Linked DNA regions of Homo sapiens. The protein of the gene in region 1 interacts with the protein of each later gene in a biochemical or structural test. Each region holds a gene or a part of one and is shown in the gene's direction. Other genes may lie near its edges. The genes, in order: SAYSD1, RPL26 and UFM1.

Region 1 (7,311 bases):
AAATTTCAGTTATGTAAAATAAGCATTTGTTTTCATACATTTTAGGGTAAGCTGGGGGTTAGCTATTTGAGGCTGTGCTCAGTTGGGCAGCTCAGCTTTAAACTGCAAGTCTCTGGGTCAGCCAGGTGACCACAACCTAGATGTCTTTCATTATTCTTGGATTAGCTGGCTAGCTGTTGCAAGTTCATCTCATGGAAATGTGGAATATTAAGAGAATTTATTTAACAGGACAAACACACTTCAAGTTCCTGCTCACGTAGTTTCTGCCATCATCCCATTTGGCCAAAGCAATCTGCATGGCTGAGTTTACAGTCAAGGAATGGGGAAGTCTACTCTGCCTTTTACGGCGTGGATACAGATAGGAATATAGAATCGGGCCAATGACTCAATTCTATAACAAGGCCTGTATTAGTGCATTCTTGCATTGCTATGAAGAAACACCTGAGACTGGGTAATTTATAAAGAGGTTTAATTGGTTCACAGTTCTGCAGGCTATATAGGAAGCATAGCTGGGGAGGCCTCAGGAAACTTATAATCATGGCAGAAGGTGAAGGGAAAGCATGCAGGTCTTACATGGCTGGAGCAGGAGGAAGAGAGAAGGGGCAGGAAAGTGCCACAATTTTTTTTTTTTCCAAGACAGGGTCTCGCTCTGTTGCCCGGGCTGGAGTGTAGTGGCACGATCTCACCTCACGGCAACCTCCACCTCCTGGGTTCACCCAATTCTCATGCCTCAGTCTCCCGAGTAGCTAGGATTACAGGCGTGTGCCACCATGCCCAGCTAATTTTTATGTTTTTAGTAGAGACAAGGTTTCACCATGTTGGCCAGGCTGGTCTCAAACCCCTTGTCTCAAGTGATCCACCTGCCTTGGCCTCCCAAAGTGCTGGGATTACAGGCGTGAGACACTGCACCCAGCCATGCCACACACTTTTACACAACCAGATCTAGTGAGAACTCTATCACAAGACAGCACTAGGAGGATGGTGCTAAACCATTAGAAAAAAACTCATGATCCAATCTCACCAGGCCGCACCTCCACACTGGGGATTACAATTTGACATGAAATTTGGGCAGGGACACAGATCCAAACCATATCATGTGGGTATTTTATTTATAACTTATATGTATGACACATACACATTATATATGTTATGTATATGGCATATACATTATATATATGTAAAATGTGGCATTTACAAAATATTTCATAATAAAAATTAATGAAATTCACACATTAAGCACATTTTGGGGACCCTTCTTATTTACTAGTCTCATAATCCCGTCCAAAGAGGAAATAAAGTTGGCTTGGCAGGAGTTGTTCTTCATGATGGTCTCTTTCATCTTTTCTTTTTTCTATTCTTTTAACCTCTTCCAAAAAGGATTTAAAGAGGCTTACAAAGCACCAAGTAAAAGTAAATTCATAATAAATAAAACAAAGCAAAAAGAAAATAAGGTTTCCAAAGCAAGACAGAGCAGGAACCACATTAGCTCTGGCCTGGATGTTCTGTTTGCCTCTTCTGATCCTCTTTCCACCCTTCTCTACCTGTTCTATGCTCCCTGAAGGGCTCCTGTGTCTCCTTGCTTCTCCTATAGCTACAGGGCTCACTGGGTTCTGATAACTGCTCTGTCCTCCTGATGCTTTGGGCCTAGAGACAGGTAGCACTTCCTGTGAACCATCCCTTGCTGGCTTCCTTCATCCTGCCACACCTTTGTAACTTACTCCTTCACTAAGCCCTTCTTACTTCACCCTTTGGAAGGTGCCACGTTTCCTGTCAGGGACCCTGACTGCAACCGCCCACAAATTGTATGCCTTAATTCTATACACCTGCAAGATGCGGGCCTAAGGTCTTAGAGTCATTATCAAGTGGGAGACAAAATCGGTTAAAGAATCCCATCTCTCAAGAGAAGCAGACATACTCCTGACACCAAAATGGGCAAGAAATTTCCTCTTGTGGTTTCTCAAAGAGAGGACATTGTGGTGTAATAATCCCATTCTTTTCTCTTACAAACCATCTCTAATCCACTCAGGGCTCAGCCCTCAAATCTCTTCTTATCCACACTCACTGTTTGATCTTATCTAGTCTTACAGCTTTAAATATACACATGCTGATGACTCCCAGTGTGTGCCTCCGGTCCTGACTTTCCCCTCAAATCATTTTCACTATCTAACTGCCTATTTTTTGGATATCCAATAGGCATCCCAAGTTCTTTGTATGTCCAAAACAAAACTTCCAGTGTTTATTCTGTAATTCTCTCCTCCCAGTGTGCCCTCATTTCAATAGAGGGCCCCAGCATCATTTGCCTGGTTGCTCAGGGCATGTGTGTATGTATATGGGGGGGCAGGAGGAGTGGGGTAGTAATGGAAGAAACCTGTCATCCTTTTTTTTTTTTTTTTTTTTTAATAGCGATGAGGTCTTGCTATGTTCCCCAGGCTGGTCTTGAACTCCTAGGTTCAAGCGATCCCCCTGCCTTGGCCTCCCAAAGTGCTGGGATTATAGGCGTGAGCCACGATGGCTGGCCCTGTCATCCTTGATACCTTTTTTCCTCACATTCCACATCCAATCCGTCTCACACCATGTTGGCTCAGGTCTTCAAAATACATTCAGAATCTGACCAATTCTCGTGACCTCCATCACTACCACTCTAGCTCAAACTACTACAGTTTCTCATTCTACCATATTTATTCCTAACTAGTTTCCCTTCTTCTATTCTTGCAATCTTCCAGGGTCCCACCTCCATCAGCCAGTGTAATCCTTTAAAAATATGTCATATCATATCATCTCCTGCTCAAAATCCACTAACTGCTTCCCACCACACTTAGTCTTCACCATGGCCTACAGGGCCTTACATGCACGATCTTGCCCCTGGCATCTTTATTTTCTGTCACTCTTTCCTCCCTCCCTCCCTCCCTCTCTCCCCCTCTCTCCCTCCTTCCCTCCTTCCCTCCCTCCCTCCCTGCCTCCCTCTCCCTCCTTCCAATCCAGTCATAACAGCCTCCCTGATGTTCTGTGAACAAGTCAAGCGTGCTATTTGAGGCCTCGGGACCTTTGCACTTGTTCCTCTGACTGAAACACTCCTGTTCAGATATCTACATACCTCACTCATTTAAGTCTATGCCCAAATGACAAACCTTCAGGGAGGTCTTCTCTAATACCTCCACCATTGCCTACTTTGCTTCACTTTTCTTCACAGCACTTATCAGTACCTGATATGACATGAAATATGTAGATACACATTTGTTTATTGTCTGTATTTCCATTTGGAGTGTAAGCTCTAAGAAAACAGGTTTTTGTTTGTTTTTTCCTTTCATCCCAGCATCCCCAGTGCCTGTGACTTTAGACAGAGCAGGCCCTAGGTAAACGTCTGTTAAATGAATGGATGACTCTGTTCTAATTTGTCTAATTTCTCGAGTCACCCTCAGCCAGATCCAACAAATATTTGAGTCTTAATTATGTAAGTGACACTTAGCTAGATGCTTACAGCTTTAAGAACGTATAAAACAGCCCCTAACCTGAACTGTGTCCTTTTGGGAGGGTACTGATTGGGAGAGGGCACAAGGAAACTCCCAGAGTACAGAAATGTTCTTTCTCTCCATCTGGGTGGTAGTTACACAGGTGCATACATAAGAGCAAATCTACTGAGTCATATTCTTAAGATGTGTATTTTATGTTGCACCCCAATAAAAGTTTTTGTTGTTGGTTTTTTTAAGGTTCTGACGTATCTAGACACAAAACGAGATAATTTCCCAACGTGGCAAGACCAATGATGGAGCTGCACAGCCTGCTTTGTGAGCAGTGAGAAAGTCACCCTCCAGGTACTAAGATTGGCATACCCTTTCCTTGATAAGAGAAAAAGGGTAAGATGTAGCCTGTTATTCCTCTGACGCTGGAATGTCGTAGAGATCACGGGCCTCTCCTAACCCCTGGAACCATCTTCTCACTGTGGCGCTGTTCATTGGGGCCCAGCAACAGAGATCCCGAATACAGGACGCTGGATCAGTGGGGCCTCGAGCCCTTAAGTGAGATGCAGCAAGGCAGAGCGGCCTTTGGGAGAGGGCAATGGGGCAGCCCTGTGCTTTAGACTTGGCTTGAGGAGGTGACACTGTGTCCACGTGCCTGTGAAGAGAGAACGGCTGAGTATACACGCGACCCGCCAGACTTCACAAACGGAGGAGACGCGGGTCACACCAGTGCGCATGCTCAGCAGGGGCTTCTGCCACGCAGGCGCACGGCGGCCGGCGCGGGCCGAGCGGAGGCAACTGCTGTGCGGCCTGCGGGCGCGCGCTCCCTTATCGGCCAACGGACGCGAGGCGCGCGCCATGGAACAGCGGTTAGCTGAGTTTCGGGCGGCGCGGAAACGGGCGGGTCTGGCGGCCCAACCCCCTGCTGCCAGTCAGGGCGCACAAACCCCAGGAGAGAAGGCGGAAGCAGCAGCGACTCTAAAGGCAGCCCCAGGCTGGCTAAAGCGGTTCCTGGTATGGAAACCTAGGCCCGCGAGTGCCCGGGCCCAGCCCGGCCTAGTTCAGGTGAGACGATGGAAACTTCGGCCCTAGGACCTGGCCTCGGAGCCACAGTCGAGGGCGCGGCCCTAGCTGCCGGGGGTGTGGCCCTAGCTGCCGGAGGCGGGGCTACTGGCCCCCCATCCTGATCGAGGGCCGGACCGCTCATCTCCGGCCACACGTGTCAGCACTGTTACCAGTTTTGACATTTTCTTTCCAGCCCGCGACCCACGCAGGTCCTGATTCCAGCGAGAGTCGAGGGTCCTGGGAGAAAGCACCTCTGCTCTTAAATTATTCACTCCGAATTGAGTTATCGTGACGCCCTGTGGCATTGGGAAACCTCTCCACAACCAAGTTGAGCCACAGCCCTCTGCTAATGGAGGAGGGTAAAAGGTCTAATTGGATACCGATCACAAGTAGCAGTAATTAAAACTTCATTTGATTCGCACCTGGGGCACATGCAGCTAGTAGCCCAGATAGCCTGTGACTTAGAAATGCGTTTGAATACAGAATTTACCAAAGTGTGGTAGCTGTAACTGCCGGTAGTGGCAGAAGCTTATTCCAGTTCCATAGTGAATGTTCAAGACACAAACAAAAAAAAGTGATTTAGTATGATAACCTTTTCACATTTAATTGTTTTGGTAATCTCTTGTTTTGCAGATGAATTTAATTTGCATCCTTTTGTGTTTTCATTTAGTTTTAACTCAGTAAAATGGTAAGGTGGCTTGCAGTGAGGTTGAAATGTCTATGTGGAAATACAAGACAAAACATATCAAGGGATGAGTGCTTTGTAACAATTTGTGCCCAGTGCTTTGTTCCTCATAAGTGCAATAAGAACTAAAAAATTCCTTTTAAAATGAAAATATACTGGAAGAAAAGTGTACCTTGCTCACCTTAAAATTATTTCCTGTAAGTTCATCTATTATTGCACAACATTTGATTTGAGGGAATTTTTAAAAATTACTGAACCTATTACTCAATTTTGATTTGATATTCTCAGTGATATACAGGATTCCAGCTGACTTGCAGAAAGGTGAAAAGAGCGCAGCAGAGTTCAGACAATCCATTTCCTTGTGTGCAGTTTGTGTTAATTGTCTTTGGATAATTTTATTGTTGACTAGAACTTTCTAAGTACAACACTTGCTTAAGATTTTAGAAACCATTTCCCTTATTCTTTTTCTCTCTGCAGTTAAAAAACAATGTCTAACCCATGCAATGAACTTTTGACTGTATGTCTCATTTCCAAAGGAATGAGATCATTGAGGTGGACCCAGAGAAACTGAATTCAGAGAAAAACTTCCATTATTGAGAACCCAAACGCTGATTGCCAGACAAAAGGATGAGAGGAAATGCTGGACCTCCAGTTTCTTGTTAATTGCTCTGTTTTTCCATAAGGGACTCTGCCTTAAGCTCATTTTCATTGACTTATCATTTCTGGGTTTGCTCTGGTGTGAAAATTCTCATTTAATTTTTTTTCTTCAGATTCTGCCTCTAGTTTAGAAAAGAAAAAGTCTAATTTACAATTCATGTCAGACAATTTTGATGGCACACTGTGGCCTGTCAGAGATTTCTTTAGCATTCTATTTTTTTAAATTATTTTTAATTTTTGTTTTTTTAATTGAAACAGCTTTATTGAAATAAGGTTTACATACTACAGAATTTATCTCTTTTAACATACAGTTCAAAGATTTTTAGTAAATTTATTGAGTCATGCAACCATCACTGCAACTTTAGAACGTCTCTATCACTCCAAGAAGACCCCTCTTGCACATTAGCAGTTACTACCCATTTCCAACCCCAGCCCCGCACAAATGTCAGTCTGCTTTCTATCTATACATTTGTCTTTTCCGGATGTTTCATGTAAATGGAATTATACAGTATGGTAAACACATTTTTTGTCTATTAATTTTTATATTCAACTAGGTTCAACATGTAGCCGTAGCCAAATATTTTAAATTTTCCTTCTGGAAGTTTGAAAATATTTATCTTTTTTGATACTTACTTCTCCTTCTGCTTTCTCTTTTTCATACTGAAACAGTCTTTTAAATGATTGCATTCATTGATTAATTCCTTATTTTTCCCTTCTAGCAGAAGACCTTCCTTTTCACTCTCAAGACAGCATCCTTGGATATTAATTACCTTTTGTTCATTATCCCCTTTCTTATGAGCACCATCTAGTTGTTGAAGCAACAGATTTTCATGTTGTAGTTGAGATATTCTCTCCTCTACGTAGTCCCACTTTCCAAAGGATTTACTTGGCTTAGGTCCTTTTGTACACTTTATAAAACCAAAACCTTTTCTCTGAGAGAATTTCTTGTGTCATGGAGTTTACTTTTTAGGGTATTGAATTCGAGCTTCGGAAAGTTGCTCAGTTAAAAACTCATTATTATCTTTTAGTTCAGAAATATCAGAACTCATTTTCTTTCTTGTAAAGAAACGTCTTGTGCTCTCTGTAAAGCAAGTTCTAGGTCTCTTTTTGTTTTCACACTTTGATCACACTCACTTATAGCAGCAGCCAGTCTAGCATGGAATGACTCAACTTCAGCTTCCAGTCTTTCCTTGTTTTGATTTTCCTTCTCCAGTTTAGACTTGAGCATTGTATTCTCAGTTTTGAGGTCGTTAAGCTGTTGACCATACTGGGATACTGTTTTTGTTAATGTTTTTCCATTCAGTTTTATAGTCTCTTGAAGGTCATCATTCATTTCTTTAACAATTTCAATGTCCTTTTTCCCTTTCGAGGTTCCTATTTTTTATTGTGTATACTTACATACACAATAAAGGCAATATCTCTCTTCAACAAGCAATTTTCATGCAT
Region 2 (6,934 bases), on another chromosome or scaffold:
AAGCATCCATCGGTGACACTTGATTATGCTTATCTGGTCACATCTGTCTCCTCCTTAACGAAGTGCTCCTTCCGGGGAGGCTAGATCTTATAGATCTTGGTATCTCCAGTGCCTGACACAGAATTTAGTAAACAGTAAGAGCTGGAGAAATATTTGGAGAATGAGTGAATGAATGAATAAACCTGACAGCTTGGTGTTTAGAAAAAAGTTAAGTCTAATCAACTCTGGGTGTGGAATCTAGCTATAATCCCTGCTTTGCTATGTCTGAAGGCTTCAAAATGATCCTAAAGGGACCTTTTTCAAATCCAGGAAGAGGAATGTGGGCAGCGAGGGAGAGAGAGTGCAGTCAGACTAGGCTGCAGGGTGAAGGCAAGACACCCAACAGACACGTTAAGAGAAAGGGGGCCGGGCACGGTGGCTCACGCCTGTAATCCCAGCACTTTGGGACGCCAAGGCGGGCGGATCACGAGGTCAGGAGATCGAGACCATCCTGGCTAACACGGTGAAACCCCGTCTCTACTAAAAATACAAAAAGAAATTAGCCGGGCATGGTGGCGGGAGCCTGTGGTCCCAGCTACTCGGGAGGCTGAGGCAGGAGAATGGCGTGAACCCGGGAGGCAGAGCTTGCAGTGAGCCGAGATAGCGCCACTGCACTCCAGCCTGGGTGACAGAGCCAGACTCCGTCTCAAAAAAAAAAAAAAGAGAGAAAGGGACGGCCAGGCGTGGTAGCTCACGCCTGTAATCCCGGCACTTTGGGAGGCCGAGGCAGGCAGATCACTTGAGGTCTGGAGTTCGAGACCATCCTGGCCAATGTGGTGAAACCCCATCTCTACCAAAAATAAAAAAATTAGCCAGCCGGGAGTAGTGGCTCATGCCTGTAATCTCAGCTACTCAGAAGGCTGAGGCAGGAGAATTGCTTGAACCCAGGAGGCAGAGGTTGCAGTGAGCAGATATTGCGCCACTGTACTCCAGCCTGGGTGACAGAGCGAGACTCCGCCTCAAAAAAAAAACAAAAAACAAAAAAAAACAGATAGGGACGTTCTAACTAGGCTACTGGCCATTTGCATCTGTATGGACAATTTGTACCCTGCAAATTTTCACATTGTATCAAGTGTCATGCTGTATGGATGGTGGGCTGAAGGTTTAATTTTTTTTTTTTTTGAGACAGAGTCTTGCTCTGTCTCCCAGGCTGAAGTGCAGTGGCATGATCTCCACTCACTGCAAGCTCCGCCTCCCAAGTTCATGCGATTCTCCTGCCTCAGCCTCCCGAGTAGCTGGGATTACAGGTGCACACCGCCACGCCCGGCTAATTTTTTTTTTTTTTAGTAGAGATGGGGTTTCGCCATGCTGGCCAGGCTGGTCTTAAACTTCTGGCCTTAACTTCTGACCTCAAGTCTGCCTGCCTCGGCCTCCCAAAGTGCTAGGATTACAGGCGTGAGCCACCATGCCCGGCCTGAAGGTTTCATTTTGAGACTCGGTATTGAACAGAGGGAGAAAGAAAGGAAGGCCTGGGAGGGTAGGGTGTCAGCAGAGGATGTGAGGGCTGAGGAAACAGAGAGGGCCTTGGTGGGAAGACAGGAAGACGATGGGGACACCCGAACAGGAAGGGAGTTGGGAAACTAGTAAGGACAGTAGGAAGAAAGAGAAGGAGTGACAACGTGAAGGCCAGAAAGGCAAGGCAAGGAAGGAAGGCAGGCACCTTCGGCAGCTCCCTAGGACTTCCAGACCCAAATCACACTCAGCTCAGCCCTAGAGCCCCTGGGCTCCCGTCTAAATGCCTCTCTTCAGCGGCAAGGACCTGGTTCCTGGAAAACACGAGTCACGCTGCTTCACACCTCCAAGCCTTCCTTCAAGCAATTCCTACTGCCTTGTGGAGCGAATGCTAACATTCTTCCAATTCCAGTCAATGCTGACCTCACCTCAGAAGTCTTCCCTGACCCCAGAGCTCCCTTCTGCTCCTGAATCACAGAGACAGCAAGGGCAGCTGGCTCAGCGAGCACTTTTCCTGTGGTCTCGTGGCTGTTGATTCCCTTGTCTATCTTTTCTTGTAGACAGTAAACTTCCTGAAGGCACAAACTTTGACCTATTTTGCATCGCCAGTGTCTAGTTTCAGGGCTGGCCCAGGAAAGAAGCCTCATAAATATTTGTTGAAAAGAGTCGCAGCAGAGGAATTCTTGCTGAATTTTTCAGTGATGAATAAAATCTAGGGCTACTTCCTTCACAGCATATTTAAGAACACAACTATTTTTAAATCATGAAAACGCATGTTCGTTGCTGACCATCCTCTGGGCAGTCCTGACTATGAGGTTCCCACAAATTGGGGCCATATACAGTTCCCAGAAGAGGCCGGGGAGCCAGCCTGCACGGGTTCTGCTGTGACTTATGGGTCCTGTATAACCTTGCACCAAGTTCCTCTCATTTCTCTGTGGCTGAGTTGCCCAATCTGTAAAATGGGGACAATAATACCAGCAACAACAGAGCCATTTTGTGGATTAAAAGAATTCATGATGTAAAGTGTAGAGAAGAGCGTCCCCACACTCAGAAGGCTCACTACGTCTTCGGTATTCTTGTGAAACGCCTGTCCTCTGTCACTGTGACACCCGTGTCATTCATTCAGCAGAAGCCGTTCAGCGCCGGTGCCTGCTGCACTGCCGCTGCCTCAGAAACCATTTGCAGGGGCCGGGCGCGGTGGCTCACGCCTGTAATCCCAGCACTTTGGGAGGCTGAGGCGGGCGGATTGCCTGAGGTCGGGAGTTCGAGACCAGCCTGGCCAACATGGTGAACCCTCGTCTCTACTAAAACTACAAAAATTAGCCGGGCGTGGTGGCGGGCGCCTGTAATCCCAGCTACTCAGGAGGCTGAGGCAGGAGAACCCGGGAGGCGGAGGTTGCAGTGAGTGGAGATCGTGCCAGTGCGCTCCAGCCTGAGCAACAAGAGCGAAACTGTCTCAAAAAGAAGAAAAAGACACACACACACACACACACACACACACACACACACACACACACACACACACACACACACACACACGAAGAAGAAGAAAAGAAACCATTTGCAGGGAGCGCACGGCTTCCGTCTGGTCCTGAACTGGACGCAAACAGGCCGAGCATTTAGAAACCCGCGCAGCTCCCCGCACCGAGAGGCTTCCTCTCGCCTGGCTCCTTCGAAGCGTGGTCTGGACCAGCACCTCCCACAGCACTGGGGGCGCCTTGGAAACGCGGCCTTGGACCTATTTCCGCGGGGGCAGGCGGCGATCGGTGGCCCTGGTCCTCGCAAGGCCCCTCACCACCCAGAACTGAATCTCTGGCGGGCCCTGCTGTGCGGTCAGCAGACGCCCAGGTGCAGGGGCGGTGGCCGGCGTCGCGGTGGAGCTCGTTAAAGTACCGGCACGCTGGCCGCGCCCACGCCACGGGCGGGAGGGGACGGTGAGTGCAGGGACCCAGGCGACCGGCCGGCCGGCGTCCCCGCGCCTCCTGGCGGCCAGAAGCAGGGCCTGCGCTTCCCCGGCTAAGGGGTGCCGGCCCCCGCCCCGGCACCTGGGAGTGAAGGTACCAGCGGGTCTCCTGGGCGGTCTCCTGGGGCCGCTCGTTCCTTCATCACCCCCAGGGGCAGTTGGACCCTGAGCAGCCTTAGCCAATAGCCCCGGGACTACCCTTCCCAGAGGATTCAGCGGCAGCACCCGGGTCTCGGAAGGGAGACACTAGGACCTGGAGGAGGGGAGTTTTGCAATCCCTCGCAGTTCCCCTCCTAGCCACTAGGTGACACTAGCCATAAATTTATTTCCCAGTTTACTCCCCTCGCTCAAACTCCGCGCCCCTCTCGCTCCGAGAGACATAGGTCTCGCGAGATCTTTGGTAAACTTACAGAACCGGAAGCAGCGTGTAGTTCTCTTCCCTTTTGCGGCCATCACCGAAGCGGGAGCGGGTAAGGATTCGGCGGGCAAGCGGGTGTAATCAGCAGCCATCCGTTCTTGGGCATGGTGGCTTCCGACCGCGGGGACCCCGAGAGTCTCTTGTCGGCCGAGTAGCAGCCAGGAAGGAGAGACTGGGATGGTTTTTTATCTGTTGCTTTCTTAAATCAAGGGCCGCCGGGCCGGAGATGGATGGAGGGACCGGGGATTTGGGAACTCGAAAACGAGCTGAGGGAAGGGAGCCTGTGGAAATAGACTGGAGTCTGGGTAGTGTCGTTTCCTAGAGAATGGTCTCGAAGTAACTTCTCGGTAAAGTCTTCACGGAATTTCCAGACCACACTTGCCCACTGGGAGGCTTTTAGGACCCGAGACGTGTGCAGGCTTTTCCAGGTTCGGGTTGGTGGGCCTTATTCATTTTGGCGGGGCTATACGTATTCACTCTTAAGCCTGTAGAAGATGAACGTTGATTGTACCTTCTAAAACGTGAGGTTATAGTTAAGAGAATTGCGTTGTCGGTCTGCTCAGCAGAGATGTAAGTCCAGTCTTGATTTCCTCAGGCACTACTTGAGGAGTTGGGAGAGTGTAACTAAAAGGTCTTATAACTAGGACAAGTGTTTTTGATGCAAAAGTCTTTAGTCCGTAAACATATACAGAAAACACCCGAATAAAACAAAAAATAAAAAGTTTCGAGCTTCGGTTGATAGGCCCTTCCGATCAAACAGTTTTTGTTGAAGTTGCACAACATGACACTGCCTATGATCATTCTAGACTATCAAGATAAAATCATTGCGGTTATTTGTTTGGAAGCTGGATGAGATTTTGGTCATTTAAGAGTCTTTTTAACTTTTTATTTAGCCAAAATGAAGTTTAATCCCTTTGTGACTTCCGACCGAAGCAAGAATCGCAAAAGGCATTTCAATGCACCTTCCCACATTCGAAGGAAGATTATGTCTTCCCCTCTTTCCAAAGAGCTGAGACAGAAGTACAACGTGCGATCCATGCCCATCCGAAAGGATGATGAAGTTCAGGTGTGTATCCCTACTTGTTCTCGTTGTCTTGATGGATATTTTACGCACTTAGCTTAGAAGAGAGATTGCATTCCTGAGAAAGATGCTTCTGAGACTCTTGCTCCCAAAGAGTGGCAAGATGAGTTGAGCCAGGGACCAAAAAACAGTAAGTAAGCTGCTTTTCAGTTTTTAATTGTATTATTTGGTGAAAATCTTTTTTTTTTTTTTTTTTGAGATGAAGTCTCGCTCTTGTCCCCCCCAGGCTGGAGTGCAGTGGTGCCATCTCAGCTCACTGCAACCTTCGCCTCCCGGGTTCAGGCGATTCTCCTGCCTCAGCCTCCCGAGTAGCTGGGATTACAAGCGCCCGCCACCACGGCTCGGCTAATTTTTGTGTTTTTAGTAGAGGCGGGGTTTCACCATGTTGGGCAGGGTGGTCTCGAACTCATGGCGTCAGGTGATCAGCCCGCCTCAGCCTCCCAAAGTGCTGGGATTACAGGCGTGAGCCACCGCGCCCGGCTGAGATGGGGTCTCACTCTTACCCAGACTGGAGTGCAGTTGCGTGGTCATGGCTCTTGTGGGCTCAAGTGATGCTCCCATGTAGGACCTTTTTTTTGTTTCTGTAGAGAGGGGTCTCACTTTACTGCCCAGATTGGTCTCCAACTCCTGGGGATCCTGCCCGAAAATCAGTTTCCTCAAACGTCAGATGATGTGACCATAATTAGGTGACATAATCAGAACATTGCTTTGGGATTAATCCTTTTATCAATATATTGTGACTACCCAACAGGCTCATTTTGCCTGCTGTCCAGATAGAGCCGATTTATCTAGACAGGAATTGCAATAGAGAAAGAGTTTAATTCATGCAGAGCCAGAACGAGAGACCAGAGTTAACTACTCAAATCATTCTCCCGGAAAATTTAGGGATGGGAGTTTTTTTAAGGATAATTTGGCAGGTAGGGGGCCAGGGAGTGGGGCGTGTTGACAGGTCGTATCAGAGATGAAGGCATAGGGAGTTGAAGCTGTCTTCTTGCTCTGAGTTGGTTCCTGGATGGGGGCCACAAGATCAGATGAGCCAGTTTATTGATCTGGGTGGCACCAGCGGATCCATCAGTGCAGGGTCTGAAAAAAAAAAATCACACAAATCTTAGGCTTTACAGTGTGTTATCCCTAGGAGCAATTGGGGAAGCCTCTAGCTGCCTAAACTGTAATTTCTAGTCTTGCAGCTAATTTGTTAGCCTACAAAGGCAGTCTGGTACCCAGGCAAGAAGGGGGTTTGTTTCAGGAAAGCACTGTTAGCATCTTTGTTTCAAAGTTAACCTGTAGACTAAGTTCCTCCCAAAGTTAGTTTGGTCTATGCCCAGGAATGAACAAGGACATCTTGGAGGTTAGAAGCAAGATGGGAGTTAGGTCAGTTCTCTTTAACTGCTGTAATTTTCTCACTGTTGGCAATTTTTGGAAAGGAGGTTTCAATGTTTGGTCATTGAAGAGGCAGTTGAGGACCAGTAAACAGAATTGCTCCCAATCTAGATTCAGGAGCTGTAACTGAAGCACAGTCACGTTATCGTTTGCACTTACAGGTAAATAATTTGTTGCATCTATTTAGGTGAAGGTTTCTATAAATGACCCTTAGGTGTAATCTGTAGTGCAGCTAGTGATTAAAGAATTCAGGCAGTCTCTAAAGCCATTTACATACACACCATCAATATTTTTTCATGCCTATTTCAAAAAGATGAAATGGGTTCCCAAACAAGCAGTGTGGGTTGAGAACAGCCGTTGGTCCCTGCTGCAGTAGTGCTAAACTTGCCAGTAGACCTTGAAAACTGTCATCTCTGTTTTCAATACATACCAATGCAAGAAAGTCACAAACTGGGAAGAAGAATCTGTTCAGAAATACTTGTCCTCACAAACTGAGGACCACTGGGATTCCTGTCCACTAACCTTTGGGAAAGAATTGGTTTGTTCCGTTAAGCATTTGTTGCTGCCCTCTGACTAGCACTAGGTTGCACACATTAATGGG
Region 3 (7,254 bases), on another chromosome or scaffold:
GGAGCACAGAACTTTCAGGGCAGTGGACTATTCTGTATGATACTATAATGGTAGATACATGTCAATGTATATTTGTCTAAACCCATAAAATGTACAACACCAAGAGTTAACCCTAATGTGAACTATGGGCTCTGGGTGATAATGATGTGTCAATGTGGGCTCATCATCCGTAATAAACGTACCACTCTGCTGAAGGATGTTGAAAATGTGAGAGGCTATGAATATATAGGGATAGGAAGTATCTTTATCTGCTCAATTTTGCTGTGAACCTAAAACTGCTCTAAAAAATAAAGTCTATAAAAAAATACTCTGGGCTGGAGAAAGGAGGAGAAGAAAATGATAAACATTGTAAGGTCTCCCCGAAATATGGCCCTATTCCTTCATCCCTAGGGAAACAATCTCTAGGGAATTTCAGAATCAGAGAAAAGATGCCCAGTTCCTGCTCCCATTGAAGCCCAGGAAGACAACAAAGTTCCCTTCATTCTAGGGAGAAAACATGTTATCTTTAGTCAAAGATGTCTGAGCTCTTCTGGGTTCCCTATAGCCACAGGGTGGTACAAGAGGGCACTTTTCTTACATCCCTTAGAGACAACAAACAGTCCTAAAGTCGTCTTGCCAGCACACAAAAAGGAGTGATATCACCAGACAAAAATGAGATGTCATGTGTCTCAGATGTTTGGAGTGGACACAAATATCACTGAGAATATGGAGAGATGATGACAAAGGACCAGACGTCACAGTCCTCTGAAGCCTGTATTCTACATAAAACTGCAAGAAGAGTCATGTGGGGAGAAACTACAAATGGATCTAAAAATCTCAACTTGAATCAGAAAACCTTAAGTTAATAGAGAAAAGTAAAAATAGAACATTAATATTTACCTCATTTAGCTGGTGGAAGGATAAAAATATGTAAATGTGGAAAAAAAAAACTCATGGTTGAAATGGATTTGTCAGAGGCTACTTCAGTTTTTCTAAAAGTAATGTTTCCATTAAATGAAGAATTCGCACAATATTTAGAGAGAAAATTTAATTATACCAGACTGTTAAATTCCTGTTTTTCACAGTTCAAAATGCCATTTTGTAATAAAGATATTTTACAAATTCTGTGGTTAAAATATTCCACGTTTTGTGATTAAGCCTCAAATTTAGAAACATTGTAGTCAATGAGCTTCGTAGAAAAGTCATTTCTTTTTCTCACTGAATTTTAGAAAATATTTGGGAAAAATATGTAACTGTAACAATCAAATGTAGCACATTTAGAGCTATAGTCTTCTGTAAGGGCTTGCCTGGACTTGCTAGGCTCCGATCTCACCTGGGTTTCATTGTTCTTTTTGACTCAAAGGAATGTAAATATTCTCTAACCTTCTAGTCCTTACCTTGAAAAATAACACAGCATTTACATATTCCCAAGTACTTCTGTAACCAAATCCACTCTCTCCTCTTTGTATAAGGCTTCTTGTCACTAAATTATGACTTATAGCCAAGGCATCAAAGTTTAAAGTCTATATTTTGTCATTGATTTGTACAAAGTGGTTAATACCAGCCAAAAATAAATCTTAATGAATTTTGAGTCATTATTATCATTGCTTCAATTATATCAATGCCTTTTAGTGGATTTTGAGGGGAGAAAAGGCAATAGAAAAAAATGAACAAATTAAAGTACTATTAAAATACCAGTCAATTATTAATTGATCAGTCTATAATTTGTTCCCTGTAATATAAAGTATTTGGAATAGAACACCTTAAGATTTATTCAGGTGCAGATGTTTCAAGATTACATAATTTGACTATCAGATGGTTCTAGTCATAATCGTAAATACAATCAAATTATGGTGAAAATGAAAGAATTTTTTTTGGCATCCAGAGGAATATAAAAAATAAAGTTGGCTATAAAAATAACTAGTCAGAAGAATTTCTATGACTATGGAAGCAAATCTTTTTAGTCCTTATGTAAATTTAATTTCCTTCTGGCTTTCTTCTAATAATGGGAAATTTATATGCATTTGCAAATAGAATATTGGTATGCTTCATTGACATTTAATGAGGTCTAACATGGTCACACTGTGCACTTCTACAGTCATTTCTGCCTCTACATGATACTAATTGGATCTTTTCCAAAACACATTAGGCCATTTATGCTATTTGTTGTCTTAAAATGTTCCATTGCCAATTATCTCCAAAAATTTGCTCCAGAGTTTGCTTCTGATTACAGCCATTAAACGTACTTCAACATTTTAACTTTTCAGTAAAAGAGAAGGTCCTTGTTTTGCTATAAAATTTTCCAATTGCAAATCCCTTCACAAAGTTAAAAAAATTGATTATAAATAAATCCATTTATAATTTCTTTCTTGTCCTAAGCAAAATAAAACTCAGGAGGCTGCAGAAATCATGCTGTGACTCTGAGGAGACAAACATGAGAAGCAGAGTTGGGGACTGAGGTGAAAAAGAATTCTAAATATTTAGAAACAGCTGCTTTTTAATATCTCAAGAGATGTTATTTTGATATATTATACAAATGTATTTTCTGAAGCAGCAGAATCTGAGTACTAAAGTCACACTGTGGGACTGAATTCTGTTTTCACCACTTTTTATACATACAATAAAAGCTCTCTGATTAATATCCATTTTTCTCTTTAGGATTTTGCCACGTTTTGATTCATGAGCAGAAACCAAACTATAAATAGCAGGATGCAAATTTTGTTTCAAAATATATTATATGTAGTCTTATAGACTGTAAATATGTACACTCATCTCTTTCATTATTATTTGGCTAGCTGACAATAGGTAGACACAATCACAGTTTTATCCTTATTACTATTCTCACAAGTTTTAGTCACACCCACTAATTGAATAGTTTCAGCTATTAAGGCTGTAACTGTTGATCCCTGTATCTGTCAATCAATATTTGGCTTCATCTACATATATGGTAAGACCATTATTTTAAAAAGTGAGGATGGCTGTCATGAGAATGTTGGAGTCTTACTTGCCTACTCAGAACCAGAACTCTCTCCACTGGGAAATGTCACCATAGAAGATCAGTTGGCTGCAAAATTATTGTAAAGATGAATTTGATCTCCATTATCCCTACTACAGTTCCTTCCTGGTTCCTCTCTTAAGTATCTCTCCTTAAGAATCTGATGCATATTCTAAAGATCAACTAGATTGCCCCATTATTTTAATGCCTACCTGCTTCCTCCTTTGTCTATTCATGCTAATGTTTTAAAAGGGCATTTCAGTCATTGTGAGACAGACGCATATTTTCCAAACACAGAGGTTTAGATCTGTAATAAAGTTTAGAGGACAATTTTCTTCCGTCATCACTACACAGGATGTTAGATCCTAGAGAGTTGACGCCTACCTGCCTTACTCATCTTGGATTCCCCAGAGTTTAGCTTAGCGCCGGGCAAATAGAAAGGGTTCAAAGTTGGTTGTTAAATTGAATAAATGTGGTCAGTGATTAGCAACTCAGCGCACTGGTTTAATTAGACCATATAACAAATTACTGAAATCTCCTGTTCATAGATGTGTCTTCCCAACTAGACGCCACGTTCCCCAAACGTAGAAACCTCATTTTTTCTCACCCACCCCAGCGGGAGTCTTGGCATAGATAATTCGTACTTGATAGCTCTCTTACTTAACCGAAATTCAATAGTTATAAATCAGTATCGGAAAGTAAAGCGTGAAGGAGAAACTATGAGAAATGTAAAGGATATAACAGGATTGGTTTGCTGGAAAGACGGAAGAAAACTAATGATAAAGCAGTGTTACAATTCCTGCTTCTGGAGCACCAATTAAGCTTTTCCGCGCTCAGGTTGCCTTAGAAACTTTAGAGCGCGTCCGCCCCAGCCCCGCCCCCGGCCTCGCCCCGAGCTTCGCCCCAAGTCCATCTCGCTCTTCATCCGACTACCCCATACCCTTACTTCCGCCCCAACCTGCCAACTGGAACCTAGGGTCCTACGCTCTATGCCCACGCTTATTCTGCCTGACTAAAAATATGGTAGCAAATTACCAAAGTTAGAAAGATATCTTATAAATATAATCCATACTTTTTTCTTAGATATATAAACGCAAAAGCACAAGATATTTGTAATTTAAAAGCGCCATCTAGCATGAGCTCTTAGGGCCAATTTTCAGGCAGTGCGTTGGATAGCAACAACTTCGGAGGTCCCCAGATTGCAGAGGGAGACGTGGACGTGAGTGGAGCGGGGCGGTCCCCAGCACACTAGAGGAAGTCGTGCTACCCCCGCGGAGTTGTCGTGTGTTCTGGATTCATTCCGGCACCACCATGTAAGTGTTTGCTTACCGACTGCCATAATTCCTGGTCCAGCTGCCCGACCCTGACTCTCTCCCGCTCTTTTCCTCAGGTCGAAGGTTTCCTTTAAGATCACGCTGACGTCGGACCCACGGCTGCCGTACAAAGTGTGAGTAGCTCGGCCGAGATGGGCCTTTTGGGGCCGGACAAGACGGGGCTGGGTTGGGGATGATCCGAGCTTTTCCAACAACTACCCCACGCAGTCTTCATCTCTTCACTTCATCTACTTTCCTGGCTCGCGCCCTTCCAGGAGCCTTTCCCACCGGAGCCTGCGAGGAGAGGTCCGTACTTGCTCGCTAAGTGTCAGCTTGGCAGCTTGGCCCCGTCACGAGGGTGTGGGTGTGTTTCTGATTAGTGACCTCCCCTCGGAATTCATTTGGTGGGCAGGTGGCGCGGGAGGACAGGTGGACCAGGTTCTGGTAATTTGTTGGGATTCTTAAACAGTCCCCATCTGCTGGATATTAGAAAAGCGTTTCACCGCTTTGGCCAGCTGGTTGAGGAAGTTAAGGAAGACATTCCATCTTGATAGTCAAGACTTTGAAATTACTTGAACATTTGTTATTCCGCGGCTTCTGAGTTTCGTTGTGTATGAGTAACTCAGCAGTCGGGCATCACAAAGTAATGAGACTCAGATCACACCCTTCCTATGCTGGGATTTAATAGAGTATTTGGTAGGAATGGGAAATGCAGATAGGGGATAGTTTATCCATGTGGGGCCTTTACTTATCCTTCGCAGTTGAGTGATAGATTTTAAGTAAACACTCTTGAGGTTATTGCAGTTGGAAGTAGCATGAAATGTAGCAAAGAACAGGATTACAATAGAATTTTTTGCATAATTAATTAGTACCTTGGCCTACCTAGCTGACTGATAAATTTCAATGATTTACCAATCCATGATCCGTACAACCTCTCAGCCTTTTCCTCCCTTGATCTTTTCATCTCCAAAATATCCCTGTTACACTTTATCTCAGGTGTTCATGGTTGCAGCCTAGAACCTTAAGATTCCAATAATTGCTCCATCTCTGAGATGTCGTTTACAGGCACTCTTATGGATAAATACATTCTCTCCTACATGATTTACTATAATTTCTCATCTACAACGTTTCATTTAATCCATTAATCACAGTGATTTTTTATCTGTAGCTATCCCCACTTCTATTCCTTACCTTACTCCTTATATAGTTAAGAGTCCATTGGTCCACCTTTAAATCATTCTCATGCAAACACCCTCAACTCTGGTGGCCCTGTCTCTCCTCTCAGCATATTTTGGTTAGTGAAACACCAACTCTGAAACCAGCTGTTTGTATTATCTGTACATAGCTGACTGCCCCTGGAGAAAATAACAGACTGGAGGGTTTACATTAAATTCATGACTACAATTAATAGTACCTAGTACTTAATACATTCTTCAAGTTTGCTCATTTTCCTCCTTATTCTCAGAAAAGATTGTTTAAAAATTTCAAACTTTCCACAGCTGCTGTCTCCCTTGCTATCAAGCCATCAGAGGGAAATTCTATCATCTTTACACCAATGTAAACCTACCACTACATGGATAAATCCGTTAATTTCCCATCCTGTTAGAATGGAAAAAATGACTTCACTCCTATGAAAAACCACTTGAGCTATAGTTCCCATCTATTTCAGTCTTGTCAAGGTTAAAGTAGATGGAGTCCAGTGCCCCCTCTCTCCTCATGATTGGTTTTTCCCTTTCTACTGGATTATTCTCATCAATATGCAAATGTACTCGAAAGAGAGCGTGAGAAGGAAGGAAGAAAATGATAGAGTAGGACAATAACATTAAGAGCCTGGAACATTGTACCAGTTCAGTTAATATGTGGTGACTGAATGAATTTAGTAGGTACAACTGTTGTTTAGTATGTATGTGTGCGTGTGTAGTTGTGTGTGTATGTGTATAAGGATGTGTGTGTGGAAAATTCACATAACGTGTAAATGTGTGTACAAGGGTATCTGTGCTATATTTTCTTTTCAAAGTACATGGTAACTAGTACTTGGGTACTTGACAAGCTTGCCCTTTTAATCTTTGCTTCCTTTACACATGTTCTTTTCTGTGCTTAGAATGCAGTCTCATGATCACAACATATTTTATAGTAATAAAAATCTCACCTCTATGAAGTTTGTTTTTTTTTCTTTCTTTCTTTTTTTTTTTTTTTTTGTGAAACAAAGTCTCGCTCTGTTGCCCAGGTTGGAGTGCAGTGGCACGATCTTGGCTCACTGCAACGCCCGCCTTCCCAGTTCTTCTCCTTCCTCAGCCTCCCAAATAGCTGGGACCACAGGTGTGTGCCACCTTGCCCAGCTAATTTTTTGTATTTTTAGTAGAGACGGGGTGTCACTGTGTTAGCCAGGATGGTTTCCATCTCCTGACCTCGTGATCTGCCCACCTCGGCCTCCCAAAGTTCTGGGATTATAGGCGTGAGCCACCCCTTCTGGCCAAAGATTTTTCTAATTGTCCACAGAGTTAATCTCGCCCTTCTTGAGTTACCTGTGGACTTAGTCTTTATAATAATTCTTACCAATTTATGTTATTATTTTGTTTATATATTTATTTAAAAAACAAATGATGCCAGTAATTTACTTCAAAAATTCTCATTAATGTAAATTTATTCAAAACACTGGGATAATTTAAGTACCGATTTTATGAAATGACTGGCAAATACAACTTTAAATCTAGATAAGATCTGTGGAGTCACTGTAACTCTCATTTTTTCTAATTTTCTGCCAGTTAGAACTTGCATTAAAAGATGTTTTCATTTTTGATTTGTTTTTATTGGCTTGTCTGTGGACACTCACCAACTTAATATACAGATAGAAACTTATTTTAATGAGCATCAGTATGACATCTAGGTATATTGTAAGGACATTTCCAAGTCTCCGATTTAAAAGTGAATTGAACTCCAAGGGTTTAGAAGTTCTCCAATTGATGC

What was found.
Region 2: the proteins of SAYSD1 (region 1) and RPL26 form a complex in vitro, tested with the Homo sapiens proteins (one study listed by BioGRID).
Region 3: the proteins of SAYSD1 (region 1) and UFM1 form a complex in vitro, tested with the Homo sapiens proteins (one study listed by BioGRID).

What each region holds. Positions count from the first base shown.
Region 1 is NC_000006.12:39,112,095-39,119,405, reverse strand, and holds the start of SAYSD1 (SAYSvFN domain-containing protein 1), read left to right. Parts: upstream 1-4,219; 5' UTR 4,220-4,316; coding exon 4,317-4,523; intron 4,524-5,685; exon of another isoform or gene 5,686-7,311. UniProt on the Homo sapiens protein: Ufmylation 'reader' component of a translocation-associated quality control pathway, a mechanism that takes place when a ribosome has stalled during translation, and which is required to degrade clogged substrates.
Region 2 is NC_000017.11:8,380,147-8,387,080, reverse strand, and holds the start of RPL26 (large ribosomal subunit protein uL24), read left to right. Parts: upstream 1-3,887; 5' UTR 3,888-3,924; exon of another isoform or gene 3,925-4,300; intron 4,301-4,765; 5' UTR 4,766-4,770; coding exon 4,771-4,938; intron 4,939-6,934. UniProt on the Homo sapiens protein: Component of the large ribosomal subunit. The ribosome is a large ribonucleoprotein complex responsible for the synthesis of proteins in the cell.
Region 3 is NC_000013.11:38,345,635-38,352,888, forward strand, and holds the start of UFM1 (ubiquitin-fold modifier 1), read left to right. Parts: upstream 1-4,216; 5' UTR 4,217-4,285; coding exon 4,286-4,287; intron 4,288-4,364; coding exon 4,365-4,421; exon of another isoform or gene 4,422-4,480; coding exon of another isoform or gene 4,481-4,593; intron 4,594-7,254. UniProt on the Homo sapiens protein: Ubiquitin-like modifier which can be covalently attached via an isopeptide bond to lysine residues of substrate proteins as a monomer or a lysine-linked polymer.